Homo sapiens: one gene and its partner. The protein of the gene in region 1 purifies or fractionates together with the protein of each later gene. This does not show direct contact. Each region holds a gene or a part of one and is shown on either strand. Other genes may lie near its edges.

What was found. Proteins that work in one complex are often made in the same cells at the same time.
Region 2: the proteins of CCDC124 (region 1) and PRKRA purify together in Homo sapiens (affinity purification with western blotting; one study listed by BioGRID). This does not show direct contact.

The regions. Positions count from the first base shown.
Region 1 is NC_000019.10:17,931,416-17,935,168, forward strand, and holds the start of CCDC124 (coiled-coil domain-containing protein 124), read left to right. Parts: upstream 1-1,599; 5' UTR 1,600-1,633; intron 1,634-3,680; exon of another isoform or gene 3,681-3,753. UniProt on the Homo sapiens protein: Ribosome-binding protein involved in ribosome hibernation: associates with translationally inactive ribosomes and stabilizes the nonrotated conformation of the 80S ribosome, thereby promoting ribosome preservation and storage.
Region 2 is NC_000002.12:178,437,614-178,441,266, reverse strand, and holds part of PRKRA (interferon-inducible double-stranded RNA-dependent protein kinase activator A), read left to right. Parts: intron 1-1,023; exon of another isoform or gene 1,024-2,400; intron 2,401-3,653. UniProt on the Homo sapiens protein: Activates EIF2AK2/PKR in the absence of double-stranded RNA (dsRNA), leading to phosphorylation of EIF2S1/EFI2-alpha and inhibition of translation and induction of apoptosis.

The DNA.
Region 1 (3,753 bases):
TCTCAAACTCCTGACCTCAGGTGATCTGCCTGGCTCGGCCTCCCAAAGTGCTAGGATTACAGGCGTGAGCCACCATGCCTGGCCTTTATTAGTATTTTTTAAGAGAGGTTCCTTCACCCAGGCTGGCTGGAGTGCAGTGGCGCTATCATACCTCACTGCACCCTCCAACTTCTGGGCTCAAGTGATTCTCTTGAATGGGAGGATGAGCATGCCACCACGCCCAGCTAATGTTTTTATCTTCTGTCGAGATGGGGTCTCATAATGTTGCCCAGGCTGCTTTCAAACACCTGGCCTCAAGCGATCCTCCCACCTTAGCCTTCCAAAGGGTTGGGATCACAGGCATGTGCCACTGCGACCAGCCAGGATAATAATCTTTCATGTGATTTTCCGACTTTAAGCCCCCTGCACCCAGAGACCTTTCTGTCTCATGCCTGAAGGGAAGGAACTGGCCACGGAAAAACCTGGGAAATTCCTGGGGGAACTCCCTGAGGCAAGACTGCGCCTGGCAATTTGTAAGAAGGGGGCTGGTGCGACCTGAGCAGAGAGCTAATGGGAGGGTGAGGGAAGCCAAGGGAGATGGGGTGGGAGGTGGGAGGAGTCTTGCGGGACAATGGGAACCCAGGGGAGGCGTTAGAGCAGGGGAGGTGCATCGCGCACTGGGATTTAGGTCCCAGCAAGGTCGCTGGGGGGATGCCTTTTAGGGAATGGACTCTGTGGTCAACTACTCCTACCTGAACTGCCCCCAAAGCATTTGCTTTTCCCTCTCCACAGTCAGGACCAGTGTAACCTTAGACCCCTAATACTGCCATTTTTACTGTTGAGAACACCGAGAAGTAGTAAATGCAGAAAATCTAAAGTATAGTGCCTAAGACAAATTGGCGCCTCAAACCTAATTTCTAAATAAAATTAATAAATAATATTGCAGAAGTGGGGAGCAGGTCAGCAATCCAGGAAGAGGCACTGGCAGGAGCAAGAGACGGAATTTGAGCCTACTCGCGGTTATGAGCCTACTCGCGGTTACATTTTGGCCAAACTCAATTCCTGGTCTCTCTGAGCCTCGGTTTCCCTACCTGGACTGCGCGGTGTGTGTTAATTTCTCTGCCCCATTTATCTCCCCTCTCCTAGCCCCGCCCCAGCGTCACCAGTGGGACGCAGAGACTCAGGACTAGGAAAGCACTTTTAAAGCGTTAAGGGATTGCGAAGAGCTACGGAGAGGCTTCCTCAGGGCTATACTGGGTCCACCTCCCCTCATGGACCGCGGGCGCGCTCTGGCGGCCGGGCCGCTCCAGGCTGAAGCCGCCGGACCACGTGTGTAGTCGCAGCTGCCATCTTTCATCCGGGCATCGGCCATCTTGGTAAAGGCAATGTTCTAGATTTTCGCCTCTGCCCGCCCCTCCTGGTTCATCAACATATTAAATGAGCGTAGGGAATGAGGGCGTATTAAGTGTCCTCTTTTTGAAGAGACAAAGAAGTGGCTGACTACCCTGGCTTGGGTCCGAGGCCCAGCCATCTTTTTCTTTACCAAAATGGCGGCGGTACTGAGGCGCAATGAGTGCGCGCCGCCAGGAGCTCAGCGCGCAGGCCCCATGATGACGTCACGGAGGCGCGACCGGGCCGGCGCTGGGGTAAGAAGGTAGGAGCGTCTGCGGCGCGGGCGGAACCCGGGTTCGGGGAGCAGAGGCGCGGGGCGGGGGCTGCTTGGCCTGGGACCATCCCCTGGGAAGGCTGGAGGAGGGGTGCTGGGAGGCAGGAGCACTTCTGGCGTCCAGTCTGAACCGCACCTAGTTGGGGGCGATGCCCATTTCCAGACTAGACGATTGAAGCCCGACGCGACAGCATGTTCGAGGCCACCTGGCCCCGGACTGCCCCTAGGCAGCTTCTGGTCTCGAGAGGGACAGAGTTGGGCGCGGACTCCCCCGGCCTCTTGTAGGGGGATTAGTGGTGGGGGACTTCAAAAGGGATAGCCGGGAGGGCTGCTTAGAGGAGGCATTGTTGAATTTTGTATTCTGTTATTTTACCTTCACATCCGTGGGGTCTTAATCCCCATGGGTCTTGATTCGCTTCTAAGTGTGCCCCTCGCCCAGCCTGAGCCACTCCCTGGGTACCGCCTGGGCTCCCAGCTCCTGCCATCTGGGGAGTCCACCTCCTCACTAACCCCAGAGGGCTTGTGTGACCCATAGATTGGGCTTCCCGGCTCTAACGCCCTCCACACCTTCCCATCTCCCTGGAATACAAATCGCCCCCTTTTCCAGCCTACCTCCTGCATCCCGCGTGCAGGCTGCGCTCTCCCCCACTCATTCAGACTTTTCCTTAGATGTCTCCTTTAGGAAGCCCTTTGACCCAGGCTGGGTCAGAAGCCCTCTCCGGGCTTCCCCGGCGCCCTGCGTGTCCTTATTAGGACTCTGATTGCATGTGTTGGCTCTTCTCTGGGAGTCCCATGCAGGCAGAAAGCTCATTTGTGCCACCTCTTTCCCCAGCATCGCACACGTATTAGGTGCCCAGTACATATTTATTGAATGACGTGTGCAAGTGAGTGAGTGTTTACTACACAGAGAAAAGTGTCTGTATTTCCAGCTTGGGCTGTCATAACTAATACCACAGACTGGGTGGCTTAAACAGCAGAAATTGCCAGGCACTGTGGCTCACACCTGTAATCCAGGCACTTTGAGAGGCCGAGGCAAGCGGATCACTTGAGGTCAAGAGTTTGAGACCAGCCTGGCCAACATAGTGAAACCCCGTCTCTACTAAAAATACAAAAATCAGATAGGCATGGTGGCACATGCCAACATGGTGAAACCCCATCTCTATAAAAATACAAAAATTAGCCGGGCGTGGTGGCAGGTGCCTGTAATCCTAGCTGCTTGGGAGGCTGAAACAGGAGAATTGCTTGAACCGGGTGGGTGGAGGTTGCAGTGAGCCGAGATTGTGCCACTGCATTCCAGCCTGGGTGAAAGAGCAAAACTCCGTCTCAAAACAAAAAAAAGCCCCAACGTGGAAACAGCCCAAATGTCTAGCTGTGGACAATGGATAAACAAAATGTGGCGTATCCATGCAGTGGAGGAATATTCAGCCATAAAAAGGAACGAAGGGCCAGGCGCAGTGGCTCAGGCCTGTAATCCCAGCACTTTGGAAGGCCGAGGCGGGAGGATCACTTGAGCCCAGGAGTTCAAGGCCAGCCTGGGCAACATAGTCAGACCCTGCCTTAAAAAAAAAAAAAAAAAGCTAGGCATGGTGGCCTGCACCTATAGTCCCAGCTACTTAGGAGGCTCAGGTGGGAGGATCACTTGAGCCCAGGAGGTCAAGGCTGCAGTAAGCCGAGATTTCGCCACTGCACTCCAGCCTGGGCGACAGAGTGAGACCCTGTCTCCAAAATAAATAAATAAATGTACTCTCACACTGTGTGGCCTTTTGTGTCTGGCTTCTTTCACTTAGTATTGTGTTGTTGAGGTTCAACCACATTGTATCATGTATGTATTGGTGCCTTGTTTCCTTGTTTCCTTTTTTTTTTTTTCTTTTAAGAGACAGGGTCTTGTTCTGTTGCCCAGGCTGGAGTGCAGTGGCACAATCATAGCTCACTGTGGCCTCAGCCTCCTACGCTCAGGCGATCCTTCCACCTCAGCCTCCTAAGTAGCTGGAACTACAGGCACAAGCCACTGTGCCTAATTATTTTTTATTTTGTAGAGACGGACTCTTGCTATGTTGCCCAGGCTGGTCTTGAACTCCTGGCCTCAAGCAATCCTCCTGCCTCAGCCT
Region 2 (3,653 bases), on another chromosome or scaffold:
ACTGTGTGCTAAGTGTTGTGTTGGGTACTGGGGTGCAGTGAATAAGCAGTCCCTGCCTCTAAGGAGTTTATAGACTACTGAAAGGAAGGAATTCTATAGGCTAGTCCTTACAGAGTGTGATGTGGGAACATAGAAGAAGGCATCCAACAAAAACAGGTTTGGAGACAGATTCCAGGAAGAAGTAATGTCTAAGCCAAGACCTGTAGAATGGGGGAAAAGAATTCCAGAGAGAAGAAAAAGCGTGTGCAAAGGCCAGGAGTGAAACATCGTATGCAGTCTAGGAGCCCTAAGTGATTTGTTGTGTGTAGAACATAGTGTTGGAGGGAGGGAGTCTCAATGAGGCCAGCAAAGTAAAGAGGGATTAAATCTTAAAGGGACCCCTATATAAGGAAAGTGAACTTTATCCCAAGGGTAGTACAAAGTCATTAAAGAATTTTAATCTGGGAAGGACAGGATCTAGTCTATACATTACAAGGAAATCACTTGGCTGCATTATGGTAAGTGAGTGAAATTAGGATCAAAGAGACCTGCGAGAGTGCTGTTACAGAAGACACGTGAGACATGACAGCTTGAACTAAGGTAGTGGCTGGGAAAATGGAGAGAGATGGGTAGATTTTAAAGTTATTTAGAAAACTGAGGTAAAGGGGCATGGTAATTGATTGGATGTGGGAAGCAAGGGAAAGGGAGGAAATTACTATTTTAAACTTGGCAATAGCAAGAGGGGAGCAGATAATGAACTAAATATATTGAATTTGAAGTGCTTATGGAATAGCTTATGGAATAGCTAAGTGAATATATCGAGTAGCTGAACAAATAAATTCAGAGCTTAAGAGATTGGCCTACACATGATATATAACTTCAGATTCTGATATTCACAGATAGGTGTGTCATGTGGTACATTATCTGAGAGTAGTGTATTAGGTGGGAAATAAAAAAGTACAACTGTAGCAACTTCTTCACTGAGCTTATGATAAAATAAGGGCTCATTCTTTAGAAAAAAATCAAAGACTATATACAAATGAGTAATATAATTTGATTTTACATTTTTAATAGAAAAATATAAAACACTGCATTTACTGCTTTTGGAATTTGAGTCAACAGTATCACCAAAATTACAAAGCACAGACAGATTTACAGGTGAAATTGGTTAAATCTTCAAAGAAGAGATCATTTTCAATGCTATTTAAACTCTTTTCAGGCAATGTATAGATAACATAAAGGAAACTTTTAAATTTATTCTCCAAAACCAACATAATACACCAAAACCTGACAATAGCAAGTTCAACAGAAAAAAAAAAATTACAGATCAATATGCCTTATGGTGAAACACCTTTGTAAAATGTTCAGTACAATATTAAAATAATGATATAGCATTGACAAGTAGGGTTTATTTAACTAAGACTATTTCAAGGTTAATAAGTTGGTTACTTTAATTAACCACATTAATGTGTCAAAGAGTAATATATAATCCTCTCAATGGATGCCAAAAAAATTTTGATAAAACTCAGCAATCATTACTGATAAAAACTTGGAAAAAAACCAAAATCATGGTTATATATTTATACATTATACTCATTCCCATTAATATCAGAAATAAGGACGCCCACCAACACCACTTTTATTTAACCTTGTTCTAGAAGTACCCACCAATTAAAAACAAATTAGACAAGAGAAAACAGTACGAAGTTGGAAATAAGAGGAGATAAAATGGTTACTAACTGCAAATGGTATGATTGTATCCCTTTAAAACCCTAAAGAAAAACTACTAGAAACAAGAGAATTCATCAAGGTAACTGATTATGAAATTAATATACAAAATCAATAACTTTTCCATATTGCCCAGAGTTATGTAGGTAACAACCAGAATAATTAAAAATAAAAAGCTAAAAATTATTGTATCTGGGAAGGGGACCTGAAGGTGGAGAAGGGGCAAGGCAGAGGTTGTTGCTTTTATACTTCTGTACTATTTGATTTTTTGCTGTATGTGTGTATCACTTTGACAAAACTTACGAAGCTTCATAACATTGGTCATTTTATAGAAAAATAGAAAATCCTATTCTGAGAAAATATACTAGAAAAAAGTCAGTAGTTTTCTTATTTACAAATAATAACTAGAATATAGAAGATCCCAATTTAAATTGTAGACAGGGATAGGCTATATGAAAATAAACTTAGAAAGAAATGCGTAGGACCACGTGAGGAAAAGTCTACTAAAGAATAGAGCAGAAAACATTGTAAATATATTTAAATGTAATGTGGTCTCACTCAAAACCTACCAGCGTTTGGCCAGGCACAGTGGCTCACGCCTGTAATCCCAGCACTTTGGGAGGCCGAGGTGGGCGGATCATGAGGTCAGGAGATAGAAACCATTCTGGCTAACGCGGTGAAACCCCGTCTCTACTAAAAATACAAAAAAAAAAATTAGCCGGGCCTGGTGGCGTGCGCCTGTAGTCCCCGCTACTCCGGAGGCTGAGTCAGGAGAATGGCATGAACCCGGGAGGCGGAGCTTGCAGTGAGCAGAGATCCACGCCACTGCACTCCAGCCTAGGCGACAGAGTGAGACCCCAACTCGAAAAAAAAAAAAACCTACCAGCGTTCATTTTGGACCTTGATACACGTTTATTGAAGTTTATCTGGAAAAAAACCCTCAAGAATAGCCAAGAAAACTGAAAAGGAAGAGTTGGGAGAGCAAGGGTGTGCTGCTTTACTAGAGAACAAAACATACTGTAAAACTGAACTTGTCAGACAAGTTACTGGGCCAGGAATAGTCAGAGGAGCGAATAGAGAATCCAGGCGTAGATGCTAATCCACATAGGACCATAGTATATAGCAACAGTGAGATTTCAGATCAGTGGGTGAGAGGATGGATTATTCAATAATGATGTAGAAACAGTTTACATCCACATTTGGGTGGGGGCTATATATATATATTTGTTGATGTGTATGACATCTATTTAGAATGCTTCCTTATTCCTTACACCAAAGTGAATTTCAGATGGATCAAAGATTTGAACATAAAAATTTGAAACAGTATAAATATTAGGAAACATGGAAGAGTTTTTCTTTTTAAAAATCTTAGCATGGGGAAAGCATTTTAACTTAAAACCTAGGTTAAAAGATTAATACATTTGACAACATAAAACCTACTGCACAGCAAAAAATCTGTAAATTAAGACAATAAAAAAGTGGGAAGAAATTATTTTCAACATAGAACTATAAAGGAACTGTTTTCAGTACTACCTTTAAAGCTCTTTTGTACACATCTGCTGCACACAGCAGCACATGCCTGTAGTCCCAGCTACTCGGGAGGCTAAGGTGGGAGGACTGCTAGAGCCCAAGAGTTTGAGAGTTAAGCCACACAGCAAGATCCTAACTCTTAAAAAAGAGAAAATTTAAAAAGCTCTTATGCATCAGTTAAAAAGACAACCCAGTAGAAGAAATGCAAACGATTAAGGGAAAAAAAGAAAAAATATTCAACTTTATTCATGCAAGATAAAATATTTTCACCTTTTAGATTGGCAAAAACTACAAAATTTGATAATAGCTGGTATTAGTGAGGGTATGAGAAAACAAGCCCCCTCCAAGACAGTTGGTAGGAGTATAAATTGGTTCAGAAATCAGTTTGGAAGTATTTATCAAAATTAAAAGTGTAC